2 linked regions of the Homo sapiens genome follow. The protein of the gene in region 1 purifies or fractionates together with the protein of each later gene. This does not show direct contact. Each region holds a gene or a part of one and is shown in the gene's direction. Other genes may lie near its edges.

Region 1 (3,820 bases):
ATGGATAGCAGTAATTGAATGTGGTTGGATTCTGAGCATCTTTCACAACAAGAGCCAATGGATGTTGCATATGAAATGGATATTTACCTGGGATCCTGGCCTAAGACAGCAGATAAAAATGGTCTGTCCTAAAGTAGTGAATTTCCTAAGGTTCCACAGCCAGTGCATGAAAGAGCTCAGGAAGGCAGAGAACAGAAGTCTTGTGTACTTTTTCATCTGTTCTCCTTCTACAGTGTCTAGACTTTTCCCAAAATAACCCCTATAACATCCTCTTCCAAACATCTTATGTAGCTGAATCTGCATGGATTCCATTGCCACAATTTCATCTGTATACAGTACGTTGGAAGAGCTTCTCAGAACATAATGTCCTGGGTGAGGTGACTTTACCACTAAGTCATGTTTCTGTGGACTCTGCTTAGGAATTGACTGTCTCCACAGTTTCATCTGAGTGACGTCCTGACAGGACACAGTTCCCCCTCCTCTGTTTTACTAAATATCTCTTGGCCTCCCCTAATAGAACAGAGTCAATAAAACAAGTTGCTACTGGGTTTAATGTACAATTGCAGGACATAAAAGTCCAAGTGATTAAACTACATGTGGCTTATTTTTCTGCTTTTCAGCACTTTCAGACCATGCTGAAGTCTAAATTGAATGTCTTAACACTGAAAAAGGAACCTCTCCCAGCGGTCATCTTCCATGAGCCGGAGGCCATTGAGCTGTGCACGACCACACCGCTGATGAAGACAAGGACTCACAGTGGCTGCAAGGTATGGGGCACGTGGCCAGCAGGGGTTCTCTTGGTGAGATAGCCTCAAAGATGTGTGGGCTTGAGACCTATGTTTCACAATGGTAATCATTTTTAAGAATGAAAATATAAAATGACCAACAAAATAAATTCACAGAGTGATGGTAGACTGAATTCATATCCTGTTTTATTTTTCTAAATGACCTAACACTATCACTTTTGGACACGCATTAAAGACCTAGGGTTTTTTTGTTTTTGTTTTTTTTTGAGACGGAGTCTCGCTCTGTCGCCCAGGCTGGAGTGCAGTGGTGTGATCTCGGCTCACTGCAAGCTCCGCCTCCTGGGTTCACATCATTCTCCTGCCTCAGCCTCCTGAGTAGCTGGGACTACAGGCTACAGGCACCCGCCACCATGCCCGGCTAATTTTTTGTCTTTTTAGGAGAGACGGGGTTTCACCATGTTAGCTAGGATGGTCTCGATCTCCTGACCTCATGATCTGCCCACCTCAGCCTCCCAAAGTGCTGGGATTACAGATGTGAGCCACCAAGCCCGGCCTAAAGACCTAGGTTTTAGTATATATGAATAAAATTGTATTCTCTCTGTGATTTCTGTAGCTCTGTGGAACTTTGGAGTTCACAAGAAAAGTTTTGTTCTTAATGATAATTCTTCCCTTTGTTCTTTCAATCTGAATAAAACATATCTTGAAGAATGAAAAAAACATAAAAAATCAAGTTTTCTAACAGTTATACTCTCCAAATCCTTTAGGGATAATTTTGCAGTTTTTGCTTTGCTTCAGCTCTCAAAATTTATACTAATATTCATGCCTCAGAATCCAGAAAAAGCATTTTCATTTATGCAAACTTTAATGCCAACGTGGAAACAAAACTAGAAATGAAATGTATAATTTTGGTAAGCTTTGGATTTTTTCTCACACGATACTCTCTTTTGCTTGAGTTGATGAATATAGTAATCAATTTAGAGATCACAAAGAAAATATGTTTTATGGATGTTTTATCATCAGAAATTTGTTTTGAGTAGTGGAAATAAAATCAGAGACAAGGAAAGTGCTTTTGTATATGGATTTCTTTCATAGCTTTGTAGATATACTCCTTTCCTTGATGCTTTCCTTATTGCTTTCGAGATATACTCCTTTTCCTTATTGCTTAGTGTGAAGGAATCAGTTCTCGCATAGCTGTGGTCAGGTTGGCGTCTACAGCGATCTTGGGTGATGGTGGTATGCACAAAACCTCATCCACATTCATTCATTCCACACATACTCATTGGGTGCTCACTGTCTGACCGGCATAGTGTCACAGTGTGGGCAAAACCCACCAGCATCTTTGTGGGATTTAACTGCTCACTGAGGGGCATGGGAGGAGAAAATCTAGGTAAACAAGCATGGTTAGTGAGAAATCCAATTTGTGAAGAACCTGCAGGAGAATCTTTCAGGCGAAAGAATAGGGCGTACTAATTCTATGAGGTGGGTGGTCTTGGTGTGTTTGGGAACAACAGGGAATGGGCCAGTGTACCTGAGAACTTGAGAAAGTTGTGATGAGTGGTGGCGCTGGGGGTGGGGGGAAAAGAGTCTTGTGGTCATGGCGAGAAGTTTAGGTTTCATTCTAATTATGATGGGGGAATCATCAGTGGAATAAGGCAAGTGAGCTATGTGACTCATTTTAAAGTGATTTTAAATGGTAATTCTGATAAGGAGAACTTCCAACTTCCCAAGAGCTATTGTCAGTGGCTCTGCCTTAACAGGAGAGAGTGAATCAACAGAACTGGCGTTAGGTACATTACATTTAATGCTTTTGGTGAATTGATGATACAAGGGAATTATAAATTTGAAAGTGATATGAGATCAAATTCGTTATACATTCTTCAGGAGATTTATTAATGCTATTTTGATTTCTGTTCCTATGAGGAAAGATGGTGCCTCAAAGCAAGATGAAATCAGTAGGGACAAGTATATGGAGGAGAATTAAGTGTGATAAAGCCTATAAAGTATGTTTAAAACGGGAAGGGCAAAAACTACACAGTTTTAAAATAAAAATACCTAGCAATCTAACAATCTAATGTAGATATTAAATAAATGTGTGTGTGTTTGTAAGAGAGAGAAAAATATTTGCTAGAATAAAAACCATCATTTTTCTGAAAAGGATTATAGGGTTCATGTCTCATGGACTAATTTTTTCTGTGTGCTGCCTTAGGTTGTACTCATTTATTTTACTTTTAAAAGGACGTTGAAAAAAAAATAGTAGGAAATCAGAAGAGTGTGCCAAAGAGGGCAAGGGTTCCGCTGGCCTCGGTATGTGTGGCTAGCTAGACAAAGGAAATCGACAATGATTTCATTTGGACACCAGGAAGAACTTCTGCATTCAAGGAGAAAAACACATTCCACCGGGCTATATAAAGTTTATGGACTCTCCATCCCTAGAAACCTTGAAGAGGCGATTCCAGGCATAGATAATCATGACCCTGGAGTCAGGAATCTGGGCCAACACCTCTTGAGGGCTTTTCCAGCGTTATTATTCTATCTGAAGGAAGAAAACCTGCAACGTGTAATTCTCCAAATTGTATACTATTGACAGAATACACTTAAGTTTTGACTGGAAACGTACTGGTGTTTTATTCTTTAATTCTCAAAGACAGTGTCACTTTTGTGTTCTGAGTTTTGTTAAAAAAATCTATTTGAACCTTGAAATGTTGGTTTAAAATCCTTTTAGATCTTCCCCAATTTTTTCTGATCATCTTCAAGAACAAAGTCCAGTGTTTCCTCTCTGATTCTTGCTAGTAACTTAGCTCACAAGATGCCAGCTGCAGAAGGAACGCTCTCTCGGGCTCACGCCTCCCAGGAATAATGAACACAATGTAGCCCGGGCCCAGCTGCAGGGCCAGCTCACGGGACCCTCCGCCTTCACACAGTAGTCACTCTTTTTTCCTAATAGCTCTTATAACTTTGGGTTTGGGGAGGGAAAGAGGCAGGAGGAAGCAAAGGAAAGGGGGAGTTGAAAATGGGTTATGGCGAGCACCACTGAGACCCTAGCTCATCTCAGATTTCCCATTTTCTGCTGATCT
Region 2 (3,820 bases), on another chromosome or scaffold:
AGCTGCTCCTCCTGGGGTGCTCCCGCGTCCACCGTAGAGAGCTGCCTAGTGACCCCTGGTGCAGCTCCAGAGAGGTCCTGCAAGCTTCTCCCCTCCACATGCAGTCAATGGACCCATCCTGCAGATTCTTCCAACAGAGTGTGTGTGCTCTGCTGGCTTCCCCTCTCTGCTTTGCCAAGCCCAAGGGGATCCACAGCGACTGCTCCGCTCTGCTGGCCTCCCGGGTGCCCCTGGACTCTGCGCAGGTCTCAGCCTTCCCGATTCTCTCAGGGGCCCTTTCCTATGCTGACTTCTGACTTTGGATCTCTCTTGATTCTCCATAGCTCCCTGGACCTTCCTTTCAAGAGGCTTAGATTTTTCAACCACACTTCTCTTTTGGGGGTAGTTCGCCATCTTCTTCCTTAGAGGGTACACGTAAACACCATGAAGGCGGGAAAGGGACCTCTTGTCCTTAGTTCTGACATATGGTGGATTCAAGCGAGCACTTGCCAATACACAGAACTGCTTAAAATATAGGTCAGGTGAGTGCTGGGAATACTGAAGTGGTGATTCTGGACAGTAGTAGTTTATTGGCTGAAAATGCACTCACTTGATTTACATCGGGGTTATTCAACTTGGCACCGTTGGCATTTGGGGCTGAGTAATTCTTAGCCTTGGGGCTGTCTTATGCATTGTAGGATGTTCAGTAGCATCCTTTAGTTGTGACAGCCAGAATCTCTCCAGACATTGCCCAGTGTTTCTTGGGGGGTGAAGTTGCCTCTAATTGAGAACCAGTGGGCTATGTCCTGAGACGCAGAGCCCTAGCTGCAGGGCTTGCATTGTTGGGGGGCAGACAGGCTGAGATCTCCGAGCCTTTGGTACCTGTCCGATGTATGGGAATTTCCACAGCAAGAGCTAAACAGTAGGATCCAGGGGTTCCTGCTGGCCTTTCCTGCAGGGAAAGTGTTTTCACTATGGTAAGGGAAGCCTAGGAGGGGCTGAACTCTCGCAGGGGCGGTCAGATCATTAAGAAATGGATGCGTTCTGTTGGCACTGTTTTGGATTCACCAGCAGGCGAGGAAATGGGAGCCACTGAGTGATTTCCCAGCACCTGCTCCCGGGTTTGTCACTGGGAGGAGCAGGCCTGTGTCCGAGCTCCAGAAGAGCCCCCTGCTGTGGCAGCGGACACTGGGTTATAGGCAGGGACTTGGGCTGGACGCTGGATTCTGGGGGAATTGTCTGGAGGCCACCCCAGCCAGCTGCCTTGCGTGGCCTGTGTGTGGACATGGAGCTGCTGGGTTTCCTGCTATAGGAGGTCGGATCTCTCCTAGTGTGGTTCTGAACATTTCCTTTAGGGAGCTTATTATATTATTAGAAAGCAGATTGGCTGGGCACGGTGACTCATGCCTGTAATCCTAGCACTTTGGGAGCTGAGGCAGGCAAATCACTTGAGCCTAGGAGTTCAAGACCACCCTGGCAAACAGCAAAATCCCATCTTTACTAAAAATACAAAAAATTAGCTGAGTGTGGCACACCTGTAATCCCAGCTACCCTGGAGGCTGAGGCATGAGACTCACTTGAACCTGGGAGGTAGAGGTTGCAGTGAGCTAGGATCATGCCACTGCACTCCAGCCTGGGCAACAGAGCGAGACTCTGTTTCAAAAAAGAAAAACAAACAAAAAAACAGATTTTCCAGCCCCAACCTGGAATGCATTCTCAAGGAGTGAGGCCTGGGAACCAGCATTCCAGCCAGCTTCCTGGGTGCTTTCTACCATGTCTGTGTTTGGGGCTGCTGATCTCGATCCTGCATGGCCAGCGTGCGTCCGTGGGATTCAGCCTCTTACTCTGAACGCATTCTGAGACTTTTGACCCATGATGCCAATACAGACCATTGCACTGGGATTCTAGTCTGTGAAAACACAGGCTGCACCAGGGAAGTGACCTTAGACCAGAGGTTGGTCAGCTTTCTCCACGAAGGCCTAGAGAGGCAACATTTTAGGCTTTGCAGGCCGCAGGGCCTCTGTTGCAAGGACTCCTCTCCCCTTTGAAGTGCAAAAGCAGCCACAGCCAGTGTTTAAATGAATGAGTGAGACTTTCTTCCAGTAAAAGTTTATTTATACAAACAAGGTGGTGGCACGCTGTGGGCAACCATTTGGCAGTTTCTCAAAATGTGACACATAGACTGTGACCAAGCAATTCTGCTCCTAGGTATGTATCGAAAAGAATTGAAAGCCACGACTCCAGGCGTTTGTCCCCCAATGTGTGCAGATGTGCAGCATTATCCACGAGAGCCAAAAGGTGGAAATGGCCTGCACCCACGAACAGATGAACAAAACGCAGTACATTCGTGCAGCAGAATATTATTCAGCCATGAAAAGGAAGTTTTGATATATGTTACAGTGTGAATAGACCCTGAAAACATGCTTAATGAAATAAGCCAGACACAGAAGGGCAAATTTTATATGCTTATGCTTATATGAATTTGCCTAGAATGTAGAAAAGAGGTTACTGAGGATGGGGATGAGGGAAGGAGTTATTGGTTAATGGGTGCAGAATTTTTGTTGAGGATGATGGAAAAGTTTTGGGTGTAGATAGTGGTGATGGTTGTACCACATTGTGAATGTGGGTAATGTCAGGGAATTGTACACCTGTGAATGGCTAAAATAATAAATACTATGTTATGTCTATTTGACTACATTTTCTCTCTCTCTCTCTCTCTCTCTCTCTCTCTCTCTATATATATATATATATATATTTTTTTTTTTTTTTTTTTTTTTTGTTATGGAGTCTCTCTGTGTCGCCCAGGCTGGAGTGCAATGGCGCGATCTCGGCTCACTGTAACCTCCGCCTCCCAGGTTCAAGTGATTCTCCTGTTTCAGCCTCCTGAGTAGCTGGGATTACAGGCAGGCGCCACCACGCCCAGCTAATTTTTGTATTTTTCGTAGAGACAGGGTTTCACCATGTTGATCAGGCTGGTCTCGAACTCCTGACCTTGTGATCTGCCTGTTTCGGCCTCCCAAAGTGCTGGGATTACAGGCATGAGCCATCACACCCGGCCTATATTTTTTATTTTAAAAAATGGCTGGTTGGATTTGGCTGTTGGCAACCCCATGCTTTGGACCTATGCTGTTTCATTAGTTTGAGTGTGAGGTTGGATTCAGGAATAACTGGGCCAACTCAGGTATTGGGCTTAAACGGAGAAGGTGAGTTGGGTTCCTTGAACATAACTAGTTACAACTTTTTTTTTTTTTTTTTGAGATGGAGTTTTACTTTGTTGCCCAGGCTGGAGTGCAGTGGCATGATTTCAGCTCACTGCAACCTCTGCCTCCCTGGTTCAAGTGATTTTCCTGCCTCAGCCTCCTGAGTAGCTGGGATTATAAGCATCTGCCACCATGCCCGGCTAATTTTTGTATTTTTAGTAGAGACGGGGGTTCCACTATGTTGGCCAGGCTGGTCTCGAACTCCTGACCTCAGGTGATCCATCCGCCTTGGCCTGTCAAAGTGCTGGGATTACAGGCATGAGCCACCGTGCCCGGCCTAGTTGCCTAGTTACAACCTTGAGTGGAACGTCAACTTCTCTTCCCTCCTCCCAGGAGAAGGGATTATCGGCCTGCACCTGCAGTCTCTGAGACCCCCAAGCCTTGGCTCATGGCTGCCTGTGGAATTATTCACACACGTGGACCCCCCACATGTGTTATCAGTGCTACCTGTAAAACGATTAGAATTTCCCTCCTCCTCACTTGTGATAACCCTGTGATGCATAGGTACATTTCAGCAGCCTCAGGACTGAGACTCTGGAAAGCCCTGCATTCGTGATGTGACATTGAAGTGTGCCCCATGT

Evidence for each region.
Region 2: the proteins of PID1 (region 1) and RIPK4 purify together in Homo sapiens (affinity purification with mass spectrometry, with the first as the bait; one large-scale study listed by BioGRID). This does not show direct contact.

The regions. Positions count from the first base shown.
Region 1 is NC_000002.12:229,152,765-229,156,584, reverse strand, and holds part of PID1 (PTB-containing, cubilin and LRP1-interacting protein), read left to right. Parts: intron 1-620; coding exon 621-767; intron 768-3,820. UniProt on the Homo sapiens protein: Increases proliferation of preadipocytes without affecting adipocytic differentiation.
Region 2 is NC_000021.9:41,756,936-41,760,755, reverse strand, and holds part of RIPK4 (receptor-interacting serine/threonine-protein kinase 4), read left to right. Parts: intron 1-3,820.